Homo sapiens: one gene and its partners. The protein of the gene in region 1 interacts with the protein of each later gene in a biochemical or structural test. Each region holds a gene or a part of one and is shown in the gene's direction. Other genes may lie near its edges. The genes, in order: SMURF1, PLEKHO1, AXIN1, SMAD5, PDLIM7, UBE2D2 and ANKRD13D.

Region 1 (3,500 bases):
CCCTTTCCCTTTCCCTTTCAGTAGATGTTATGAATGGTTTGAGAGGATTTGTGAGTGTGATCATCCTTACAATAGGATTGCGGTTTAGCGGTAATGGTACACATGCAATGCCAGTACGTGGAACCTTAGTTTACCTCGAAAGGTTTGAACTAGAAGTTTGTTGACGGTGGAATAGGTTTTAGTCTCATCTTTCTGGTTAAGGGAAGTTTGAATTCTCACTTCTGGGATGTTGAGAAGCAATCTTTCAAAATTTGAATACTTTTGTTACAGGTTTCAGAGTTTATTTCCATGTTTGTTATTTGGAAAAAAAAAAAAGACTGTTAAAAATGAGGGATATTTCAACCAGTCAATGAATAGACACAGAGCGAAATTCAGTGCAAAGATAGTGAAGATGGCCTGGCGCCGTGGCTCACGCCTGAATCCCAGCACTTTGGGAGGCTGAGGCAGATCACGAGGTCAGGAGGTTGAGACCATCCTGGCTAACACGGTGAAACCCCGTCTCTACTAGAAATACAAAAAATTAGCTGGGCGCGGTGGCTCACACCTGTAATCTCAGCACTTTGGGAGGCTGAGGTGGGGCGGATCACGAGGTCAGGAGATTGAGACCATCCTGACTAACACAGTGAAACCTCGTCTCTAGTAGAAATACAAAAAATTAGCTGGGTGTGGTGGCGGGCGCCTGTAGTCCCAGCTACTGGGTAGGCTGAGGCAGGAGAATGGCTTGAACCTGGGAGGTGGAGCTTGCAGTGAACCGAGATTGTGCCACTGCACTTCAGCCTGGGCAACAGAGTGAGACTCTGTCTCAAAAAAAAAAAAAAAAAAAAAAAGGATACTGAAGATACTACATTTAGAACTTTGGGGTCCACGATTCTATTTGGGGGTGAATAGGGCATTAGATTTACAGTTAGGAGACCTAGATTCTAGACAGATTTCTCATTAACTACATGTTACGGAACAAGTTATTTAACCTTTTTGGGTCTCAGTTTCTTTATATATCAAATGAGATTTCAGCTCCATTATAATACTCTTTGATCCTCCTTCTCACAGGATATATCAATTTAGCTACCTACTTATTTCAAATTACTGTTGGGCACTTGGGCTTAGTGGTATTCTTAATCCTGATATTCAGAAAATTGTGTTGGAGTGTAGCACATGTGTTTGATTTATGCCAAGCATTAATTTTGTGTATTGATTACATTTATGACTTTATTTCTTCATGTGGGATTGTTTTTGAAAACTGTTGGGTAATATGTTGAACTGCTTTGGCAACCTGGTCTAAACAGTAGAAGAATATTTGAGCCTTTGTATTTAAAATAATAACATTTTAACGAATGTTTTTGTGGTATTTTAGTAGGAAAATAGTTTTTAAATGGTTTCAGTAGGTTTAGGGGCATAATATATCCAGAATCAAGTGATCTTTTGTTAAAGAGCATTATCTTGTAGTCATTGGAGTTCACTGGCAAATCAAACACTTTAGAAACATTTTGATTGAAAAATCAAGCAGGATTTGCAAAAACTTTGTTCTTATCTGGTACACAAATGAATCCCAGACACATTGTTTAGGCCACTTTGGGTAAAAGAATGGAATTCAGGGTTCTACAATGCTCTTCAAGAAAATTAAATTTTATTGTAATGTCAACCAATTAGTTGAAATACAAGTGCCTAAACTTTTTTGTGCTTTTATGCATTGAAATACTCTCAGATATCCTGGTGTTTTTATATCTTTTGGAGCATGACTGCATATTGTGAAGTAAGAAAAACTCTAATTCCAAACAGAGAGGAACAAAGAGACTTTCCTTGATAGCATGTGGAAATATGAGGTTGTTTTTAAAATTGTAGCTTGTGGGATGTAAGGGTGACTTGTGTTTTGGCATTCAGATGGTGCAACTGTGAGTGAAATAGTTGTGGTAATAGCTGTTGATGATGTTGGTTGATGAATTACAGGTGTCTCAATTGATTCAAAATAGTTAAGTCTCTCAAGAAAGATTAAGAAAATTGTTAAGACTGTTGACTTTGTCAATTTGTACCAGCTAAGAACCTCACTTATGTGAGGCAGGCAAAACTTTTGTTTCAAAAACCATATAACACAGTTGCTGTGATAAGATGGAATAAGTGGTCAGTTTTTAGCTCCCTTTGCATTTACATTTTCCTTAGGGTCTGCCTCAAGTTTAGGAAGATACAGTTAAGGCAGTTCTTTGAGATGAATTATTGGAAGGTGTAGGATGGGTTAGAACAAATGCTGTTGCAAAACTTGAATTGCAATTATACTTTAAGAAGAATCACATTCTGCCAAATAGAGGTTTTTGTCATTGATTTTGTGATTTGATCACATTTGTGTTGCCTTTTAGAACAACTTTCTTTTTTCAAATCCATTTTTTTTTCCTTTTAATCTTCTTGGCCCACCCAACTGACTTTAGACATGAAATCTTTCATATGCTTTATTTCTATCTCCATTTTTACAGTAGTTGTGATTTATCAAACTAGGATTTTTAACTTCAAGTCCATCTGTCAGAGTTTAAAACCTCTAGTCTTGCAGTTACAAAAGTCCTTTCTGAATGTTGGGTTTTTCTTTCTCTTCCACACATTTTCATTTTCTCGGTTCAGTCACAATGTCAGGTTCTAGTGTGGAAAATTGGGTGAAAGAAAGGTTTTGGAGGCTGTGTTATTTATGAAATATTTCCTCATGGATTAAGAAAGAAAAAAAGACAAAACGACAAATAGTGTTTCAATATCACCTCAGTGATCCAGTTAACTAGACTGGCTGTTTTGTACAACATCGTGGGCACTGGTTAACAGTTAAAATAGCTGAATTGTGCGTTTTATTCAGTGGTTCAAAAAAGCCTCAAATGGATGAAATAACTTGATATCTTCGCCATGCTCTGATTTGCTGGGTAAGACAGCTAACTTTTAGGATGCTTATTTGGATCAATTTTTTATAATTTCAAAACCATTTTAGAGGCTAATTTTTTTTTAAACAAGGAATATACAATTTTTTTTTTTTGTCACTGAACAAGTTTTAAATTACTGGTTTGTTATTTTGTAAGTGAATTTGTAAGTGAAAGCCTCCAACTTAAATTAGCTTCTTGTCCAGGGAACTCATTCTGACTGACTAAAGTCCCTAAGGCCTTTCTAGTTAAAGGAAAGCCATGGAGCTATGTTTAAAAAACAAAAGCACATAGCTATGGGGCTTGGGCATATCTTCTTTTTAAAATGTCACTATTACTGTTTTGTCTCCAGATGCAATTTAATCCATTTAGATATTTAAACCAAGTGGAATGTTGTTTCCACATTTCTGGACTAATGGGGGAAAAAACACCCTCATATTGTTTTAAAACAAGGCTTAAATAATGTATAATCAGCGCGTCTGGTGACGCGCCCCACTCTGTAATTCCAGCTGTGTTCACCTCCACTGCAGCTGAAAGGAATTCTAATTGGCTGAGGAATGTCGGCAACATCGTTTATCACTGAGCAGGAACCTATCCTCCTGGCTGCTGGGTGAT
Region 2 (3,500 bases), on another chromosome or scaffold:
TACAGAGACAGAGGAAAGGATGGAATGACCTCAGCCTAGGATATCTGGTGTCCTATGAGTCAGGACCATCTGACTGGTCATGGAGCCAGCTGTCTCCTGCTGGGAAGGGCACAGGAAAGAGGGACTAGGCATATTGATACTGTGCTTTTTTAGAGCCAGTTTCAATGCTACAGTGGGCCTGGTTAAAAAGTGAAATTGACAGAGTACTCTGGGCTTTATTTTGCCCACTTGTGAAAAGCTCCAGGGCCAATAGAATCAAGACACGGTGTTCTGTTTTGTTTTGTTTTTTAGAGACAGGGTCTCACTCTGTCGCCCACGCTGGAGTGCAGTGTCACAATCGTAGCTCACTGCTGCCTTGACCTCCCGGGCTTAAGCAATCCTCCCACCTCAGCCTCCGGAGTAGCTGGGACTACAGGCATGCACCACCACACCCAGCTAATTTTTTTTATTTTTTGTAGACATGGGGTCTCACTATGTTTCCCAGGCTGGTCTCAAATTCCTGGCTTCAAGTGATCCTCCTGCCTCAACCTCCTGAAATTCTGGGATTATAGGCGTGAGCCACAGTCCCTGACCAAGATTTTTTTTTTTAAGGCAGAGTATAATCTATATCATTTACTGTTAATGCAAGAAAATTTCTAACCCTATCTCCCAGAATTTTCACCAGTCTCTTTTGTTATTTCCTCTCTTAAAGGCAGGGTCTCCCACAACCACCTCTGCCGTAGAATTTCTTCTGTGTTCGATAGTAATCATTTTCTTCCTTCTCAAAGGGCATCCTCTCTCAAAGAGGGCTGGAGCACCTTATGATCACAGGCTGATGTGTAAGAACAGAAGCTAGACCTTAGGAAGACCTCATGGTGGAGGAAATTGGATTCGGGGCAACTCTTTGGACAGGCGTGGGAAAAATCCCTTTCTATAGTCAAGGACGAAGAATCAGGGGAAAGGAAGGGTTAATTTGGAAGATGGGTAGTTATAAATGAGACTCTGGGAATTAGATATGTGGGGAAAAAAAAAACAATATGGTGGAGAACAAGGCTGCTTGGCTTTGTCCATCTTCCCAGGCACTGGAATATACTTGTCCTACTGCTTGCCTCACCCCATCTCCCACCCTCTCCACCAAGGGCTAACCTCTATCAGTGTCTCCTGCTCCCCAGAGCTCCTAATCAGTCTGTATGCAAGGTAGAATAACTCCCTTTCCTTCCCTTCCCCTAAGGAAAACATAGTAAGTTAACTCTCTTCCCCTGGCTACATTCACACACCCAACACTTTCCTCTCCACGGTTTCTGGGCTCTGCTGATAGTCTCAGCTCTGGAGAAGGAGGGGGAGAGGAGGGATGATGCATCATCTTGTATCCCTGTCCCGTGTTTCTGGGAATTGCTCTTGGACACCCCTTGCCAGCACCTTGTCCTACTTCCACCCGTAATCATTCAAGGCCTCTGGCCACTTTCCAGCCCAAAGCCAGGGAACCCTGGAAAGTGGGAGGCCCTGGAGGAGCCAAGCCTTGCTGAAACAAATGGAGGTAGATGTATGAGGCGTCACTCACCTGAATGGGGCCATGTTGACATCTGTCCTCATCTGTCATCAGCCTCCAGGTCCAGCAGCAGTTCAGAAGGATGGGCAGATACAAGACTGTAGATGGTCTGGGTAATGGAAGGGAGAACCACTTCCCCACTTCCAGGTTTCCAGGAACCAGGAGGATAGATGAGTTCACCTCCATGCACACGAGTCCTATTTCAGAACTTGGGAAGTTGGGGACTGTTTTGGAAAATAATTTCAGTCAGGGTGGGTAGATGTCATCCAAGGAAGACGTGAGGCTACTTTTATCTGTTTGTTTAGTTTTAATGAGACAAGTGCTGGTGCTTTTAATTCTCATTCCAGGAAAACGTGACCAGGTTTTTCCTGAGGTGTTCCAACCCTGGGCTCAAGCCACGGAGGGTGGACAGACTGCACGGTCTGGACTTGTAACTAAGTCTCCTCTCTGTAACTTTGGTCCTTGCTAGCCAAAACAAATCCATAAGCCACTGCTTCAGAGTCCCAGAGTTGTAGGAACACCACCTTAGGGGAAAAGAGAAAACATTGTGGTCAGTTTCAGATGAACCTGCGAAGAAATGTTCCTAGAGCTGCTTTGCAGTGCTCAGAAAAGGCTAGTTGGGGTTGGAGAATGTCACTAGGAATGCGGCCTCGATGAGACGTTCAGCAGGAGTGCTAAGAGCTAAATGTTGCTTAAAACCTGCTAAAGGTGGAACCAGAGTGCGGGACGGAGACTATAGCAGGGAGGGCTAAGTTTAGATAGGAGGAAGAGCTTCCTGGCAGTAAAGGGGGCCCAGGCACTCAAACTGGAATAATGGCAAGAAGTCACAGAAGTCACTTTTTTCCAAGTCTAAAGTGTAGTCTCCCAGGGAGAGTCTAAGTGCATTCTTGCCTAGAGATAGGGGGTCTGGAGGAGTTAGTTTGGATTGTCACAGTACCTTAGAGGGAGGAGGAAAGGGTAGGAACTGTAATTGTAGTTTTCAGCTTCTCTGGACAAATTCAGCAAACTGAACACGGGGCTGCCGTCCTGTGGTGGCGATGCTCCTGAAATGAACAAGGAAGATGAGTCTCTATAATTGTACATACCAGAGAAGGAAGCGAGGTGGGGTGGGAGAGCTATACTGCACACATGTGAGTGGGGAGGCCAGAGACCGCCCCTCGTTCCCTCCAGACACCCCGATAACTGGCCCTGCCTTGATCTTCTTTCTGTGGACCATCAAGGGCCATACAGGTCTGTCTTACTGAGGGCAATGGATCAACCATCTACCATGTCCCTTTAAGGACGTGAGCCTTTTTAGAACATGTAAGCTGTGTCCTTAAGGAAAAGAGTGGGGCGGTTGGTGAAGAGAGGCATAGTGGGACTCTGGAAATGGCAGCCTGGCTAAGGAGAGTGAAGAGAAGGGGTTTAAACAGAAACACACCTTAACATTCAAGACTTGGAGCTGCCCTAGCGTCCTCCTCGATGTGAGGACCTTGTAGGCTTTGGGCAGACGGCCCTCTCCTCTCCTGGCGTGCCTCCCTCTCCTCAGGCTTCCTCTGTTTCCCAAGATGATCTAAACTAACAGTCTGGGTGGAGGGGCTAAATAATTTTATCCTCCTCACCTCACCCCAACCCTCCCCTAGGTAAAAGATGAGAAAAATATTCAAGAGGTATTTGACCTGAGTGACTATGAGAAGTGTGAAGAGCTCCGGAAGTCCAAGAGCAGGAGCAAGAAAAATCATAGCAAGTTTACTCTTGCCCACTCCAAACAGCCCGGTAACACGGTATGTTTCTCCTGCCACCTTGGCTGCTGGAACATGGACAGGGTTGGAGGGGGCAGGGGAGAACTCCTTCCCCTCAGTTTCTCTCTCAGCAATCTTGGTTCAGATTCCCTGAATTGCTCTCCTGCTGGCTTTTATCATTTCACCTGAGAATATTGTAGCCATTTCCTTCTTTCCAGGCAGGCCACCCTTTAACCTGTTCAGCCACAAAG
Region 3 (3,500 bases), on another chromosome or scaffold:
CTCAGAAGCTGCTCCTGGAGACAGCTGCCCCGAGGGTCTCCTCCAGTAGACGGTACAGCGAAGGCAGAGAGTTCAGGTGAGTCCGACGCCAGGCGTCCACTTTCTGTACTCACCTCCGAGAGCTGGAGAACAAGCCAGGGAAAGGTGCTGATGAGGCGGGCGTTAACCCACACCGGATGTCCTGCTGCCGCTGGGGTTGAATTTTGGTTCTGTTCTTATTTGTGATACTTTTGCATTTGTCATTACTTTTTTATATTTGTAATGTTGAGAACACTTTTACTGAGAACAGACTAAAATATATGACTTTATGAGTCATTAGGAACATCGGAATTCTTAGAAGTCACAATGACATGTAAACTTTACCCTTCAGCAGTAAAGTCTGTCACCTCTTAAATAGGAGCTGGATCTACCCAGTAGACATGGTCCTTTCCGCTTAATAAAGGGAGGAGTGGACGTTTCAGGGCATCGATAAGAATTGGAGAATTGGATTCTTGCTTTTTTTTTTTTTTGAGACGGAGTTTCACTTTTGTTGCTCAGGCTGGAGTGCAATGGTACAATCTCAGCTCACTGCAACCTTCGCCTCCCGGGTTTGAGCGATTCTCCTGCCTCAGCCTCCTGAGTAGCTGGGATTACAGGCATGTGCCACCACGCCCGGCTAATTTTGCATTATTAGTAGAGGTGGGGTTTCTCCATGTTGGCCAGGCTGGTCTCGAACTCCCGACCTCAGGTGATCTGCCTGCCTCGGCCTCCCAAAGTGTTGGGATTACAGGCGTGAGCCGCCGCATCCGGCCAGATTATTGCTTTTATAATGATCTTCTAAGCTTCTTCCTACAGGCTGAGAAATAGCAGGGGGGACGTTTTACGTGTGGGGAATGGTCAGAGTACTTTGAAAACTTCCTGTGGCTATAGTGGGCATTCCAGGATTGGGCCTTTTTTCCTGCCAACAAAATCTGTTGGTGCTGTTGTGTAGTCCACAGCAGCCTGGACCCTGAGGCGATCCTGGCAGGGCCTGTGGGGTGCGTGTGTTGCCTGGGAGGGAGCAGAGTGGTGCTCAGCCTTGGAACCTGTTTCTTCGTTCTTCCTTCCCTGTGATCCCTGCGTGGTTCCTGGAGGTTTATTTGGCTTTCGGGCTGGCATCTACTGTGCTTGTGAGCAGAGCGCATGCATTTCCCACTCTTTCCCTAGAGCTGGTGACCGGAGGCTCCGGCCTGTGTAACTTTGAAAGCCTGGAATTCATGTGACCCCTGCTGACCTAATCAAGACTCCGAAAGCACAGCCCCATGTGCTGGGACTCTCCTGAGGAGTTATTAAAAACTCGCATTAGTTCTTCAAGCTTACTGTGACACAGAAATTGGCTACTCGCTCATCAACACAGGATTAAACATGTCTAAGGTTAAACTTGTAGTCTAAGTGATACGATTTAAGATGGACTGTCGACTGGGCGCAGTGACTCACACCTGTAATCCCAGCACTTTGGGAGGCCGAGGCGGGCGAATCACCTGAGGTCGGGAGTTCGAGACCATCCTGGCCAACGTGGTGAATCCTCATTTCTACTAAAAATACAAAAATTAGATAGGCGAGTTGGCGCATGCCTGTAATCCCAGCTCCTCGGGAGGCTGAAGCAGGAGAATCGCTTGAACCTGGGAGGCAGAGGTTGCAGTGAGCCTTGGTTGTGCCATTGCACTCCAGCCTGGGCGACAAGAGGACAAGAGTGAAACTCTGTCTCAGAAAAAAAACAAAAAAAAAACAAAAAAGGATTGTGTAGGTTAATTGGTTAATTTTTTTTTTTTTTTTGAGATGGAGTCTTGCTCTATCGCCCAGGCTGGAGTGCGGTGGCGCCATCTCGGCTCACTGCAAGCTCCGCCTCCCAGGTTCACGCCGTTCTCCTGCCCCAGCCTCCCAAGTAGCTGGGACTACAGGCGCCCGCCACCATGCCGGCCAATTTTTTGTATTTTTAGTAGAGACTGGGTTTCACCATGTTAGCCAGGATGGTCTCGATCTCCTGACCTCGTGATCGCCTGCCTCAGTCTCCCAAAGTGCGGGGATTACAGACGTGGGCCACCACGCCCGGCCTTTTTTCCCTTTTGTTCATTGTCTTTAGCCAAGTGGTATTTATTTAGCAAGCATTTTAGGACACAATATGCCGCAAAGTTATCCTGTTGAGTAAGCCTGGTATAAACTGAGAGTTTCTTTCTTTCTTTCTTTTTTTTTTTTTTGAAATGGAGTCTCGCTCTGTCACACAGGCTGGAGTGCAGTAGCACTATCTCGCTATCTCGGCTCACTGCAACTTCTGCCTCCTGGGTTTAAGTGATTCTCCTGCCTCCCGAGTAGCTGGGATTACAGGTGTGTGCTACCATGCCTGGCTAATTTTTGTATTTGTGGTAGAGACAGCGTTTCGCCACGTTGGCCAGGATGGTCTCGAGCTCCTGGACTCCAGTGATCTCAGCCTCCCAAAGTGCTGGGATTACGGGTGGGAGCCACTGCACCTGGCTGGTTATTTTTTTTGCTTGTTTTTTTGTTTGAGATGGAGTCTCGCTCTGTCGCCCAGGCTGGAGTGCAGTAGTGCAATCTCAGCTCACTGCAACCTCTGCCTCCTGGGTTCAAGTGAGTCTCCTGCCTCAGCCTCCCGAGTAGCTGGGATTACAAGTGTGAGCTACCATGCCCAGCTAATTTTCTGTATTTTTAGTAGAGATGGGGTTTTACCACGTTGGCCAGTCTGGTCTCGAACTCCTTTCCTCAAGAGATCTGCCCGCCTCAGCCTCCCAAAGTGCTGGGATTCCAGGTGTGAGCCACTGCGCCCGGCCCCGGCTGGTTATTTTTAAGATGGGACTGAAGTTGAGGGCTGGGCTGCAGGAGGAAAATGAGCTCCGTTCTGATTTCCACTGTTGGAACCCCAGTGCCTCCCTCCCAGCCACTCTTCAGTTCTTGGCTGCGAGCAGTAGCTTTGCTGTCTGTCCTTGGTTTGCTGTATTTGTAATAAGGAACCTTTGCTATGAAATTAGTGGGATACATTGGCTTCTCCTGTCTAATTTTGTGTAGCTCTGTCTACACAGTTTGGGTCCTAACTTGACTGCTCTGGGGCTGCTGGTGGCAGAGGACCCTGGGGCTTGGGAGTCGTGTCTGCGGTTGAATCCTCTCTGTGGGAGGTGGCCTGTGGTGCAGCCTTGTGGCTTGAAGATCTCTGATGTTGGAATGGTTGCTTGTCAGCACAGACAGGGCATGAAGTCCAGGCTGCGTTCCTCACATTTAGACCATTCTCTTTGTCCTGCCAGGTGTAGGTGAGGGTGCACTAGGTTGGAAGTCGTGGAAACCCACCCACCTGAGCCCAACCCTGAAGGGCACTGTTGAGGCAGAGCCTCAGGTGTGCCTTAGGGCCTGGCACCTTTGCTTTGTGCCATTCTGACTTTGCCTGCCTGGTGGGCGACTTCGTGGGCTTTGTGTTGGAGGTGGCTGCTGCAGTGACCTTGGGCTCTGGGCTCCCTTGTTTACAGATGCTTCCC
Region 4 (3,500 bases), on another chromosome or scaffold:
CATTTTATTCATATGGTTAATGTGTATAAAACTTAACCCTGAATCTTCCTTTAGCTTTCTTATCTGCATTTGCCAAATCAGTTGATGTCAAACCCCATTCTTCCAGTTGTCCAGGCTGATACCTTGGAATCATTGTTAACTCCTTTGTTCTCATACACCCCATGATCTCCTTCATCAGGAAGCTTACTGTCTTTCATATGTCTGCTGCTCACCACCCCACTGCTATCACCCTGGTTGTAAGCCATCGTCATCTTCTCCCCTCCCTTAGATTACTGCATCTCTGAACTGGTCTCGCTGCTTTTATCATTGCTGTCCACCCCTCCTCCTGCTTATTCTCAACATACCAGCCAGGATTTATTTATTTATTTTGAGACGGAGTCTTGTGCTGTCACCCAGGCTGGAGTGCAGTGGCATGATCTTGGCTCACTGCTACCTTGACCTCTTGGGCTCAAGTGATCCTCCCACCTCAGCCTCCTAAGTAGATGGGATCACAGGCATGTGCCACTGCACCTGGCTAATTTTTTAATTAAAAACAATTTTTTTTTGTAGAGATGGAGTTTTAAAAACTATGTTGCCCAGGCTAGGCTTGAACCGCTGAGCTCAAGTGATTCTCCTGCCTTGGCCTTCCAAAGTACTGGGATTACAGGCATGAGCCACCACGCCTGGCCCAGGATAACTCTTTTTTTTTTTTTTTTTGAGATGAAGTCTAGCTTTGTTGGCCAGGCTAGAGTGCAGTGGTATGATCTTGGCTCACTGCAACCTCTGCCTCCCGGGCTCAAGCAATTCTCCTTCCTCAGCCTCCCAAGTAGCTGGAATTACAGGCACATGCCACCACACCCAGCTAATTTTTGTATTTTTCGTAGAGACGGGGTTTCACCATGTTCGCCAGGCTGGTCTTGAACTCCTGACCTCAGGTAATTTGCCCACCTCGGCCCAGGATAATTCTTTAATAGTGTAAGTCGAGAACTATCATGTCTGTGCTCAGAGCTCTCCACTGAGTTCACAGTTTCCTTAGAGTACTGTAAAAGCTAAAGCCTTTATATCCAGCATGGCCATTCTGGCTCTCTGGTATCTCTTTGACCCCACTCCTTACCTTTTCCCCCTCGTACACTGTGTTCTCAGGCTATACTGGTCTTCTAGCCAGTATATGCTCTTCATGCCAGAAGCATGCCAGACATGCTCCTACCTTAGGATCTTTGCATTGCCTGTTGCCTTTACCTGTAATGGTTTTCCCCTAGATATATGCCTGTTGGCTCACTCTTTTATTTCCTTAACATTTTAACTCAGTTGGCACCTTCTTGGTGAGACCCAGCCCAGCCACCCTGTTTAAAATTACACCTCTCTTCCAGGACTTCTTGTCCACCTTCCCCTGTTTTAATTTTTCTCTATAGCACTTTTCACCTAACAAACATATCATTTACTATATCTCGTTGGCCTCCTTCTGCTGGAATATAAGCTAAATGAAGACAAGTGTTTTGGTTCCTTTTATTCACTTCTATATTCCCAGCTCCTAAAATGCTATCTTAATAAATATTCTTTTGGATGAATGACTTGAATGAATTTGACAAGTTATTGTAATGTATGTGGTACTGTTTTTTAAAGATTATATTCTAGTGCGAGAGACAGAAATAAAGTAAATGAACAAATTATTATGAATCAGTTAATACAGTGAAGAAAATGAACATAGTATTGGATTAGAGATTAGGGAAACTCTATATAGGATTATGGGGTGATCAGGGAAGGTATCTGGGATGAGAGCTAAAGCTGAGACTTAAATAACGATAGAGCTAAAAATTAGTGGCCAGGGATTAAGAAAAGTGGTATAAGCAGAAAATGGCATTTGTAATATCTGAGGTTCAAAAGACATTCCAGTATAGGAAGATAAATGCTTTTGAAGAATGAGTTCTTACTAATATTTATTGGGAGCAGGAATAATGCTTCTGGAGTTTGATTTCATTGTTTTGAGGAGCAACAGCTCATTTGTAGTAACAGGACACACTGTGAAAAGTGCTAGATACCTGGATTACATGCCCTTTCTCTGTCTCTCTGTGTTCCTCTAGTAACTTGAGTTTATCTCATTGTACTTACATATAGGGGTATAGTTTGGTGTCTGTCGTGCTACGTTATTCTGTGAAGGGAGATTCTGTCCCGTTTGCATTTTTGCTATTCCCACTCTTCACTCATATAGTACCTTTGTATGGGACTTAGAAAAAGGCCTTCTCATTTATTCCTTCACCCTTGGCTAGTGCTGATAAACCCCTGCATGTCCTACAATGTCTGCTAGTTAGTAGGTGCTCAATAAGTGTTTAATGATTCATGGCTGTTATAGCTGCTGAGTCAGTTAATGCACATATACTTAAAGAAGTAGGTGTACCTTATGATAATCATTTCTGTATTTCTGTTGATTAACCTAGAGTACTATAGTTATGGAAGTATTTGTACCTAGTTTCTGATTTGATTTTTCTTAGTTTCAACCTCCAAATTTGTATAACCCCAAGTATATTAGAGAGAATTGTTTTGAAGCAGGAATGACTCATGATAATGTAAATCCTCTCTTTAGTAAGGGTTCATAATATGGCTGAGGTATAGCTGCACTTTAATTTTGAAACCTGTTTTTCCTCTGACTCTTCAAGAAATATGTTTATTTTAAAAAATATAGAATTAGATGAAGCAGAAAGTGAAAAGTACACCTAACCCCACCACCAGAGCTAATATCACAAACCCTTTCTTTCATTAAACAAATATTTATTGAGCATATGTATCACTAGGCTTACAGTGATGAGTGAAAACAGATACAGCTCTTCTCGTGGAATTTACATTCTTGTGGGGACAGATTTGAAAGGTAAATGTAAAAACATAGGTGTGGTAAGTGCTACAAAGTAGGAGTATGTGATGCGGTAAGCATATAAGAGGGGGACTTCTAGCCAGGACGGTTTGGGAAGACTTCCCCGAAGAAGGGATGCTTGAGCTGAAAGAGAGGTGAGGTGTGTGTGTGTTTTGTAATGTGATAGATTCATTTGTAATTCATGATATACCGTAATTTTATAAGGTTTTCATTTATGGCTGAGGTACCACTGCATCTCTTTTGGTACACTAATGACGTTCTGTGTTCAGTCAGTGGTTGCAGTTTTTCAGAAGAATCAGGGAACCTCACGTACACAGGAATTTCTAAATATTATGATTACCTTGGTTTTCTTTCTAGCTTTGAGGTCATTTCTCTAAGAAATGACAAAATACATCAATAAAAGGGTATTATCAAGTCAAGTCTTCATAAACCAAAGGTATACTATGAAAGGCCAAGATAATAGCAGATAATGGGTTCATAGCTGTTAAGTCCCTCCAGTTTCTAGTGTAAGAAGGAGCATACCTTCCTGTCTGTTCAATTATTGGCTCTCTGTGCTTGGTGTACATTTTTTTAAACTCAATTTTAATGCCCTATTTCTGTTGGCTATCATATGGAAATAAATATAGGATAAAACTAAGTGATAGGCTAAATGGCA
Region 5 (2,356 bases), on another chromosome or scaffold:
GGCCAGGCACTGTGGGGATAGATCAGCTAACAAAACAGTTGATGCTTCCTGCCCTTCTGGGCCTTACATTTTGGCTGGAAGAAGAGGGGAGAGGCAGACTGTAAGCAATAAGCGCAATAAGTAGGTTGCCTGGAAGTAATGTTAGATCACGTTACGGAAAACAGGAAAGAGCAGAGCGACAAGTGCTGGGGTGCGTGGTGCAGGGAAGGCAGCTGGCTGCTGCTGGTGTGGTCAGAGTGGGCCCTCATGGAGAAGACTGCATTCGAGCAGAAACTTGAAGGGGGTGAGGGGTGAGCCTAGAGATATCTGGGGCAGAGCAGTCCAGGCAGAGGGGACAGCCGGTGTCAAGCCCAGGACAGGAGTGTGCCTGGTGTGCCAGTTTCAGGCAAGAGGCCAGTGTGCAGAGGCAAGGTGAGAACGCAAGGGAGAGCAGTGGCGGAGACGGTTGGGAACGAGGTCAGACCTGCTGGCCTCCAGCCTCTGCATGGGGCTTGGCTCTTGCTGGGAGCAATGGGAAGCAGTACACAGTTTCATGCAGGGGGAGAAGGCCTGTCTTGGGTTGCAGGGGCACGCTGTGGCAGCTGGGATCAGAGAGAGGAGCTTGTAGGCCAGTTGTTATGTGGTCCCACGGGCCAGATGGCCATGGCTTACCTCACTTCAGGGAGGCTGTGAGAAGCACTCAGAATCTGGATGTGCCTTGGGGGTGGGCCCCACTGGATTTCCTGGTGGACCTGGTGTGGGGTGTGAGAGGAGGGTGTGTTTGGCTGCAGCAGACAGGAGAATGGAGTTGCCATCCGCGTGATGGGGATGGCTGTGGGAGGAGAGGTTTGGGGTGAGGGAATCAGGAACTGAGTGCTGGACATGGCAAGTCTGAAGGCGCAGTGGTCGTCCACTCAGAGACCTTGGAGTTGGAGATGGAGGTGTGGGAGTCCTGAACAGTTAGATGTAGTGTTTACCGCGAGAAGGAACAGGGCTTGCGGCCAGCCCTCCTGTGTTCCCGTGACCCAGGGCAGGGCAGGAGGGGCCTGAGCCTGCCGAGTGACTGGGACCTCCTTCCAGGAGATCATGCACGCCCTGAAGATGACCTGGCACGTGCACTGCTTTACCTGTGCTGCCTGCAAGACGCCCATCCGGAACAGGGCCTTCTACATGGAGGAGGGCGTGCCCTATTGCGAGCGAGGTACCCACTGGCCAGTGAGGGTGAGGAGGGATGGTGCATGGGGCAGGCATGAATCCAGGTCCTCTTTCTCTCTGCCCCCATTCTCAGACTATGAGAAGATGTTTGGCACGAAATGCCATGGCTGTGACTTCAAGATCGACGCTGGGGACCGCTTCCTGGAGGCCCTGGGCTTCAGCTGGCATGACACCTGCTTCGTCTGTGCGGTGAGAGCCCCGCCCCTCGAACTGAGCCCCAAGCCCACCGGCCCTCTGTTCATTCCCCAGGAGATGCAGGAGAAGTTGGGAAGGGGCCTCTCCTGCTGCCCCCAACCCCATGTGACTGGGCCTTTGCTGTCCTTAGATATGTCAGATCAACCTGGAAGGAAAGACCTTCTACTCCAAGAAGGACAGGCCTCTCTGCAAGAGCCATGCCTTCTCTCATGTGTGAGCCCCTTCTGCCCACAGCTGCCGCGGTGGCCCCTAGCCTGAGGGGCCTGGAGTCGTGGCCCTGCATTTCTGGGTAGGGCTGGCAATGGTTGCCTTAACCCTGGCTCCTGGCCCGAGCCTGGGGCTCCCTGGGCCCTGCCCCACCCACCTTATCCTCCCACCCCACTCCCTCCACCACCACAGCACACCGGTGCTGGCCACACCAGCCCCCTTTCACCTCCAGTGCCACAATAAACCTGTACCCAGCTGTGTCTTGTGTGCCCTTCCCCTGTGCATCCGGAGGGGCAGAATTTGAGGCACGTGGCAGGGTGGAGAGTAAGATGGTTTTCTTGGGCTGGCCATCTGGGTGGTCCTCGTGATGCAGACATGGCGGGCTCATGGTTAGTGGAGGAGGTACAGGCGAGACCCCATGTGCCAGGCCCGGTGCCCACAGACATGAGGGGAGCCACTGGTCTGGCCTGGCTTGGAGGTTAGAGAAGGGTAGTTAGGAAGGGTAGTTAGCATGGTGGCTCATGCCTGTGATCCCAGCACTTTGGAAGGCCAAGGTGGGCAGATCGCTTGAGGTCAGGAGTTCGAGACCTCATGGCCAACACGGTGAAACAGCGTCTCTAGTAAAAATACAAAAATTAGCCGAGTGTGGTGGGGCATGCCTGTAATCCCAGCCACTCAGGAGGCTGAGGCGGGAAAATCACTTGAACCTGGGAAGTGGAGGTTGCAGTGAGCTGAGATCACACCACTGCGCGCGAGCCTG
Region 6 (3,500 bases), on another chromosome or scaffold:
CCTTTCTTTAAAACCTGTCCTTTAAAGTTGACTTATTAGAATATTTAGAAGAATAAGTTAAAGGAACATTCAAAAATTTCTAACTTCCCTGTTGTCATTTCCAGGAAATACATGAAGTCTTTCCTAATTGATGTTAGAATGTTCTATGCTTGAAGAGGGCTTCAGGTGATGACACCTGACAATAGGAAAATGTTTTTGGAATGCCAGCTGCCAGAATTGTGGGTAACAGGAATGAAGAGTCAGAAAACATCTCTCCTGATTTTTTAAAAAAACTTTTCATATACTCTTAAGGCAAGGAAATAGCATTTTTGTTACCAAACTGAATAGGGCATGCCAACTATTTCTTTACTTCTCAGAAGCCCTTGATCTCTATAGGATAGATTTGGTAGGAATATGAGCGAATCCTTTCCCTGCTGAATTTATGTGTTGGGAGTAAAATGGGCTGAGAGTTATTATCTCTTGGTACAGAACACCTATTAGAGAAAAGAAAGATGGCTGAGCTCTATTAGCATTAGTATAGAAGGATTTAAATTTATTTTGTCAGAGGCTACTGAACTTAATGTAATCAGTGACTTTATGCCCCCTTTGCATTCAGTAAGGAATGCATAAGTTAATGATAGATATGGCCGGGTGTGGTAGTTCACGCCTGTAATCCCAGCACTTCGGGAGGCCGAGGCAGGTGGATCACTTGAGCCTAGGAGATCAAGACTAGCCTGGCCAACATGGCAAAACCCAACCTCTACAAAAAATACAAAGAAAATTAGCTACACATGGTGGCACTCACCTGTAGTCTTACCTGGAGAGTGAGGTGGGAGGATGACTTGAGCCCAGGAGGTTTAGGCTGCAATGAGCCAAGATCATGCCACTGCACTCCAGCCTGGGCGACAGAGTGAGACCCTGTCTCTAAATAAATACATACATAAATAAATAAATATTTTAAAACATAAGTTAATGACAGATTTGAACAAAGGAAATTACACTATTGAGATTTGTCTGCTACATCCCAGGTTGTCACCGAGGAAATGGCTTAGATGAGATTCTAAATTGTCACTGAAGAGAATTTGAGACATTCATAGAAGTATGTTGTATTCTCTGTAATGAGTGTATGACCATCCCCATTTAGGGGCAAGTGTTTGCATTTATGTTCTTGATTTAGACTGAATTGTTTTCAACTGAAAATTAAACAAAACAATTGTCTGAATGTGGTGCCTGCCACTGGAAAACAGTGATTGTTGGATTTTATGGTTGTCGTTTTTGCTAAGAATATTCAGTAGTGTGGCTGTCTTTTTTTTTTTTCTTTTTGAGGCAGGGTCTCACTCTGTCACCCAGATTGGAGTGCAGTGGTGTGAACACAGCTCAATACAGCCTTAACCTCTTGGGCGTAAGTGATCCTCCCACCTCAGCCTCCTGAGTAGCTGGGACCATAGGAGTGTGCCACCACATCCAGCTAATATTTTTATTTTTTGTAGAGACAGAATCTCACTCTGTTGCCTAGGCTGGTCTCAGACTCTTGGCCTGAAGCGATCCTTCTGCTGTGGCCTCCCAAAGTGCTGTGATTACAGGAGTGAGCCATCGCACTTGGAATTTTGAAAGCCATTTATCCTTGAATATGGGCTTCTAAAAAATTGAACTTTATGGGATCTGAAAAATGTTCTTGGTCTAGAATTTAGACAAAGTTCTAATTCTATTCTAATTACTAGCCAGGGACATTGAACACGTCACTGCACCTGTCTGGGCCAGCTCCCTTAGGAGTTCAGGCATAAAGACAGTCATATCAACTCTTCTTACATCATGGGATTGTTGTGAGACTTTGCACAAAGGGGCTTATATTTGTATCTGGGAGACCAAGATGTCATTTAACATTAATTTTCTGCTATTTGTTTTATTTTATTTTTTATTTTTTATTATAATTATTATTTTTTGGAGATGGATTTTTTGCTGTGTCGCCCAGGCTGGAGTGCAATGCTACGATCTCGGCTCACTGCAACCTCCACCTCCCAGGTTCAAGCGATTCTCCAGCCTCAGCCTCCTGAGTAGCTGGGACTACAGGCACACACCACCACGCCCAGCTAATTTTTGTATTTTTAGTAGAGATGGGGTTTTACCATGTTGGCCAGGATGGTCTCAATCTCTTGATCTCGTGATCCACCCCCCTCCGCCTCCCAAAGTGCTGGGATTACAGGCATGAGCCACTGCAGCCAGCCTTCATTTTTATTTTTTAATGACCTAACCTAAAGTCTGTTTAAGCTTCTTAAAATCCTTGTTGGTAGGCTGGGTGCAGTGGCTCACGCCTGTAATCCCAGCACTTTGGGAGGCCAAGGTGGGCGGATCACGAGGTCAGGAGATCGAGACCATCCTGGCTAACACGGTGAAACCCCCGTCTCTACTAAAAATACAAAAAATTAGCCGGGCGTGGTGGCGGGTGCCTGTAGTCCCAGCTACTCAGGAGGCTGAAGCAGGAGAATGGTGTGAACCTGAGAGGCGGAGCTTGCAGTGAGCCTAGACCGCGCCGCGCCACTGCACTCCAGTCTGGGCGACAGAGCCAGACTCCGTCTCAAAAAATAAAAAATAAAAAAAACTATTTGCCAGGTGTGGTGGCTCACGCTTGTAATCCCAGCACTTTGGGAGGCCGAGGCGGGTGAATCACGAGGTCAGGAGTTCCAGACCAGCCTGACCAACATGGCGAAACCCCATCTCTACTAAAAATACAAAAATTAGGCCAGGCATGGTGGTTCAAGCCTGTAATCCCAGGACTTTGGGAGGCCGAGGTGGGTGGATCACCTGAGGTCAGGAGTTCGAGACCAGCCTGGCCAACATGGTGAAACCCCAATTCTGCTAAAAAAAAAAGAAATAATAATAATAATAATAATCCTTGTTGGTTACTGTTAATATAAAGTTAAGTAAAACTTACAAAGCTGCTAGGCATTACAGTATAAATTCTTAGAATTTTCTCATGTTTTGGCGTCTCATGTTTCTCTCAACCCTTTGCTTTGATCCTCTGCTAATTTATATGATTTTTTTCATTCTAGTACTCTTGTCCATCTGTTCTCTGTTGTGTGATCCCAATCCAGATGATCCTTTAGTGCCTGAGATTGCTCGGATCTACAAAACAGATAGAGAAAAGTAAGTATGGCCTCAAGATGGAAAGTTATCTGTGGTGGGATGGAGATGTTTGTCACAAATCTTTCTTGTTTAAGGGCTGAATATCGGCCAGATATTTAAAGTGAAGTCCTAATATACTCTCCTGGGGCTAGAAAAGAGAAATATATGCATTGAGTATTATTATAAGTAGATGATGCCAGTCTTATCCCTGATTGTTTCACGTGACTCCTCTTGTCTACAAAAACTTTTTTTTTTGTTTGTTTTTTTTTGAGACAGGGTCTTACTCTGTCACCCAGGCTAGAGTGCAATGGTGCAGTCTTGGCTCACTGCAACCTCCGCCTCCTGGGTTCAAGTGATTCTCATGCCTCAGCCTCCCGAGTAGATGGGATTACAGGCGC
Region 7 (3,500 bases), on another chromosome or scaffold:
TTGTTCTTCATCTTAGGGGAAAAACATTCAGTCTTACCATTAAGTATGATATTAGTTGTGAGTTTTTGGTAGATACCCTTCATCAGGTTAAGGTAATTCCTTTCCATTCCTCATTGTTAGAGTGTTTTTATCATGAAAGGATGTTGGATTTTGTGAAATGCTTTTTCTGTGTTTATTGATATGATCATGTGATTTTTTAAAAAATTCTATTGATACATCAATTGACCTATGGATATTGAACCAACCTTGCATTCCTGTGATAAGTTCCACTTGGTTGTGGTGTATAATTCTTTTCATATGTTGCTAGATTTGGTTGGTTCGTATTTTGTTGAGGATTTTGTGTCCATATTCATAAGTGATATTGGTCTGTAGTTTTCTTGTGATATATGTCTGGTTTTGGTATCTGGGTGATGCCTCATAACTGAAGTGGAAAATGTCACCTCTTTGTCTATTTTTTTTAATAGTTTGCAAATAATTGGTATTAATTTGTCTTCAAAAGATTGGTAGGATTCAGTGGTGAAGCCATTTGGGCCTGAGTGTGTGTGTGTGTGTGTGTGTGTGTGTATGTGTGTATAGTTTTTTGTTGTTATATTTACCAATCAGTCTCTTGACTTGTTATCCATCTATTCAGATTATCTATTTATTCTCAAATTAGTTTTGGTAGTTTGTGTCTCACTAGGAATTTGTCCATTTCATCTAAATTATAAAATTTGTTGGTGTACAGCTATCATTGTATCCTTTTATAATGCTTTTTATTTCTGTTGCTCCCCTCTTTCATTTCTGATTCTGGTGAGTAATTTGAAGTTTTTGTTTTGTTTTGTTTTGTTTTGTTTTGTTTTGTTTTTGAGACAGAGTCTTACTCTGTCACCCAGGCTGAAGTGCAGTGGCATGATAAGAGCTCACTGCAGCCTTGAACTCCTGGGCTTAGGTGATTCTTCAACCTCCCAAGTAGCTGGGACTGCAGGCATGCACCACCAAGCCCAGCTAATTTTCTTTTTTTGTAGAGATGTGGTCTCACTATGTCATCCAGGCTGCTTTTGAACTCCTGGCCTCAAACAATCCTCCTGCCTTGGCCTCCCAAAGCACTGACATTACAGGTGTGAACCACCGCCCCCAGCCAAGTCTTCTCTCTCTTTTTTTGCCCACCGTGGTCAACCTAGCTAAAGGTTTGTCAATTTTGTTGATGTTTTCGAAGAGCCAGTTTTTGGTTTCATTAATTTTCTCTATTATTTTTCTATTCTCTATTTCATTAACCTTTACTGTAATATTTATTATTTCTTTCTGTTCTTTCTGGTTTAGTTTGCTCTTTTTCCATTGTCTTAACATGGAAGGTTAGGTTAAGGTTATTGATTTGAGATCTTCTTTCTTAATATAGGCATTCACACATATTACATTTATACTTCTAGGCATGTCTTTTCTTTTTTTGACATGGGGTCTCACTCCATCGCCCAGGCTGGAGTGCAGTGGTGTGATAGCTCACTGCAACCTCCGCCTCCCAGGCTCAAGTGATCCTCCCACCTCAGCCTCCTGAGTAGCTGGGAACACAGGCGCCAGCTAATTTTTTCTGTTTTTAGTAGAGATGGGGTTTCACCATGTTGCACAGGCTGGTCTCGAACTCCTGTGCTCAAGCAATCTGCCTGTCTCAGCCTCCCAAAGTGCTGGGATTACAGGCGTGAGCCACCGGGCCTGGCCTGGCCTTTACCTGTGTCTCATAAGTTTTTTGGTTTTTTTTTTTTTTTCTGAGAGGGAGTCTTGCTCTGTCGCCCAGGCTGGAGTGCAGTGGCACGATCTCGGCTTACTGCAAGCTCCGCCTCCCGGGTTCACGCCATTCTCCTGGCTCAGCCTCCCGAGTAGCTGGGACTATAGGCGCCTGCCACCACGCCCGGCTAATTTTTTGTATTTTTAGTGGAGATGGGGTTTCACTGTGTTAGCCAGGATGGTCTCCATCTCCTGACCTTGTGATCTGCCTGCCTCGGCCTCCCAAAGTGCTGGGATTACAGGCGTGAGCCACCGTGCCCGGCCATAAGTTTTGATATGTTGTGTCTTTATTCCTGTTTATCTCAGAGTATTTTCTGATTTCTCTTTTGATTTATTATTTGAGACGTTGGCTATTTAGGAGTGTGTTGTTTACTTTCTACATATTTGTGAATTTCCAAAGTTTTTTTTTTCTGCTATTGACTTCTAATTTCATTCCATTGTGGTTGGAAAACATACATTGTATGACTTCTATCCTTTCAATTTTATTGAGGTTTTCTTTTTTTTTTTTTTTTTTTTTTTTTGAGACGGAGTCTCGCTCTGTCGCCCAGGCTGGAGTGCAGTGGTACTGTCTGCTCACTGCGAGCTCTGCCTCCGATGTTCACGCCATTCTCCTGCCTCAGCCTCCCAAGTAGGTGGGACTACAGGCGTCCACCACCGTGCCCGGCTAATTTTTTGTATTTTTTAGTAGAGACGGGGTTTCATCATGTTTGCCAGGATGGTCTCGATCTCCTGACCTCATGATCCACCCCCCTTGGCTTCCCAAACTGCTGGGATTACAGGCATGAGCCACCGCGCCCGGACTTATTGAGGTTTTCTTAATGGCCTAGTGTATGGCCTTGAAGAGTGTTCCGTGTGCGCGTGAGAAGCGTGTGTGTGGTTGTTATTGGGTAGAGTGTTCTAGCCTGCTTATGAAGTCCAGCTGTAGTGTTGTTCTTATCTTCTGGTTCTTTGTTGATCTTCTAGTTGTTCTATCCCTTATTGAAAGTGGGGTACTGGAGTCTCCAACTGACATACTTTTCTTTTAGCTTTTTATTTTGGAAAATTTCAAACATATATGAAAGAAGAGATAATGTACTTACTCATCACCCAGCTTCAACATTTATCAACATCTTGCCAATCTTACTGAATCTATCCTTCCTTACCTTTTTTAAAAATGTTTCCTAGAGTGTGTCAAAGCTCATCCCAGATGTCCTAATGTTTCTAGTAAATGCTTCTGCACAATTCTAAAAGACAAGGATGTTTTTAAACCCAGCCCCGACACTATCATACCTCACAAGATTCATGCTAATTCCTCAGTGTCTTCTAGTCCCAAGTCCATGCTCAAGTGTCCCCCCCTGTCCAGGCACCCTCTTCAGGGGTCCTCCATGTTTCATAGCGAGAAGGGGCCCTGAGAGTTGGGCACCCCGGGCAGGCTGGCTGGAGGGGGCTTTGGAAAGGAAGGCTTTGGCCAGCGTGTGAGGGTGCAGGTCTCACCAGCTCCTGTTTGGTCTGTTTCAGGAACAAATGTGGTATCTGGGGCTGGCGGTCTGAGAAGATGGAAACTGTTAGCGGCTACGAGGCCAAGGCAGGAGAGGCTAGGGGTGGGGGGCTGGGGGTAGGAGATGAGGTCCAGGAACTCAGCTCCTCTCCACATCCATCCCAGAGTAGCCCCTGGGCTCTGGAAACCCTGAGCATTTGTGGGAACTCAGCGGGCCTGAGTGCCCAGCCCCTGCGGAGTACACAGGGCTCACCCACATCATGGG

Evidence for each region.
Region 2: the proteins of SMURF1 (region 1) and PLEKHO1 form a complex in vitro, tested with the Homo sapiens proteins (4 studies listed by BioGRID and IntAct).
Region 3: of the proteins of SMURF1 (region 1) and AXIN1, one has a biochemical effect on the other in vitro, tested with the Homo sapiens proteins (2 studies listed by BioGRID, with this or other methods).
Region 4: of the proteins of SMURF1 (region 1) and SMAD5, one has a biochemical effect on the other in vitro, tested with the Homo sapiens proteins (3 studies listed by BioGRID, with this or other methods).
Region 5: the proteins of SMURF1 (region 1) and PDLIM7 are reported together in a solved structure, tested with the Homo sapiens proteins (2 studies listed by BioGRID, with this or other methods).
Region 6: the proteins of SMURF1 (region 1) and UBE2D2 form a complex in vitro, tested with the Homo sapiens proteins (3 studies listed by BioGRID).
Region 7: of the proteins of SMURF1 (region 1) and ANKRD13D, one has a biochemical effect on the other in vitro, tested with the Homo sapiens proteins (one large-scale study listed by BioGRID).

What each region holds. Positions count from the first base shown.
Region 1 is NC_000007.14:99,137,609-99,141,108, reverse strand, and holds part of SMURF1 (E3 ubiquitin-protein ligase SMURF1), read left to right. Parts: intron 1-3,500. UniProt on the Homo sapiens protein: E3 ubiquitin-protein ligase that acts as a negative regulator of BMP signaling pathway. Mediates ubiquitination and degradation of SMAD1 and SMAD5, 2 receptor-regulated SMADs specific for the BMP pathway.
Region 2 is NC_000001.11:150,152,916-150,156,415, forward strand, and holds part of PLEKHO1 (pleckstrin homology domain-containing family O member 1), read left to right. Parts: intron 1-3,150; coding exon 3,151-3,291; intron 3,292-3,500. UniProt on the Homo sapiens protein: Plays a role in the regulation of the actin cytoskeleton through its interactions with actin capping protein (CP).
Region 3 is NC_000016.10:342,724-346,223, reverse strand, and holds part of AXIN1 (axin-1), read left to right. Parts: coding exon 1-76; intron 77-3,500. UniProt on the Homo sapiens protein: Component of the beta-catenin destruction complex required for regulating CTNNB1 levels through phosphorylation and ubiquitination, and modulating Wnt-signaling.
Region 4 is NC_000005.10:136,139,345-136,142,844, forward strand, and holds part of SMAD5 (mothers against decapentaplegic homolog 5), read left to right. Parts: intron 1-3,500. UniProt on the Homo sapiens protein: Transcriptional regulator that plays a role in various cellular processes including embryonic development, cell differentiation, angiogenesis and tissue homeostasis.
Region 5 is NC_000005.10:177,482,894-177,485,249, reverse strand, and holds the end of PDLIM7 (PDZ and LIM domain protein 7), read left to right. Parts: intron 1-1,059; coding exon 1,060-1,180; intron 1,181-1,267; coding exon 1,268-1,383; intron 1,384-1,519; coding exon 1,520-1,606; 3' UTR 1,607-1,856; downstream 1,857-2,356. UniProt on the Homo sapiens protein: May function as a scaffold on which the coordinated assembly of proteins can occur. May play a role as an adapter that, via its PDZ domain, localizes LIM-binding proteins to actin filaments of both skeletal muscle and nonmuscle tissues.
Region 6 is NC_000005.10:139,620,339-139,623,838, forward strand, and holds part of UBE2D2 (ubiquitin-conjugating enzyme E2 D2), read left to right. Parts: intron 1-3,029; coding exon 3,030-3,123; intron 3,124-3,500.
Region 7 is NC_000011.10:67,295,803-67,299,302, forward strand, and holds part of ANKRD13D (ankyrin repeat domain-containing protein 13D), read left to right. Parts: intron 1-3,255; coding exon 3,256-3,322; intron 3,323-3,500. UniProt on the Homo sapiens protein: Ubiquitin-binding protein that specifically recognizes and binds 'Lys-63'-linked ubiquitin. Does not bind 'Lys-48'-linked ubiquitin.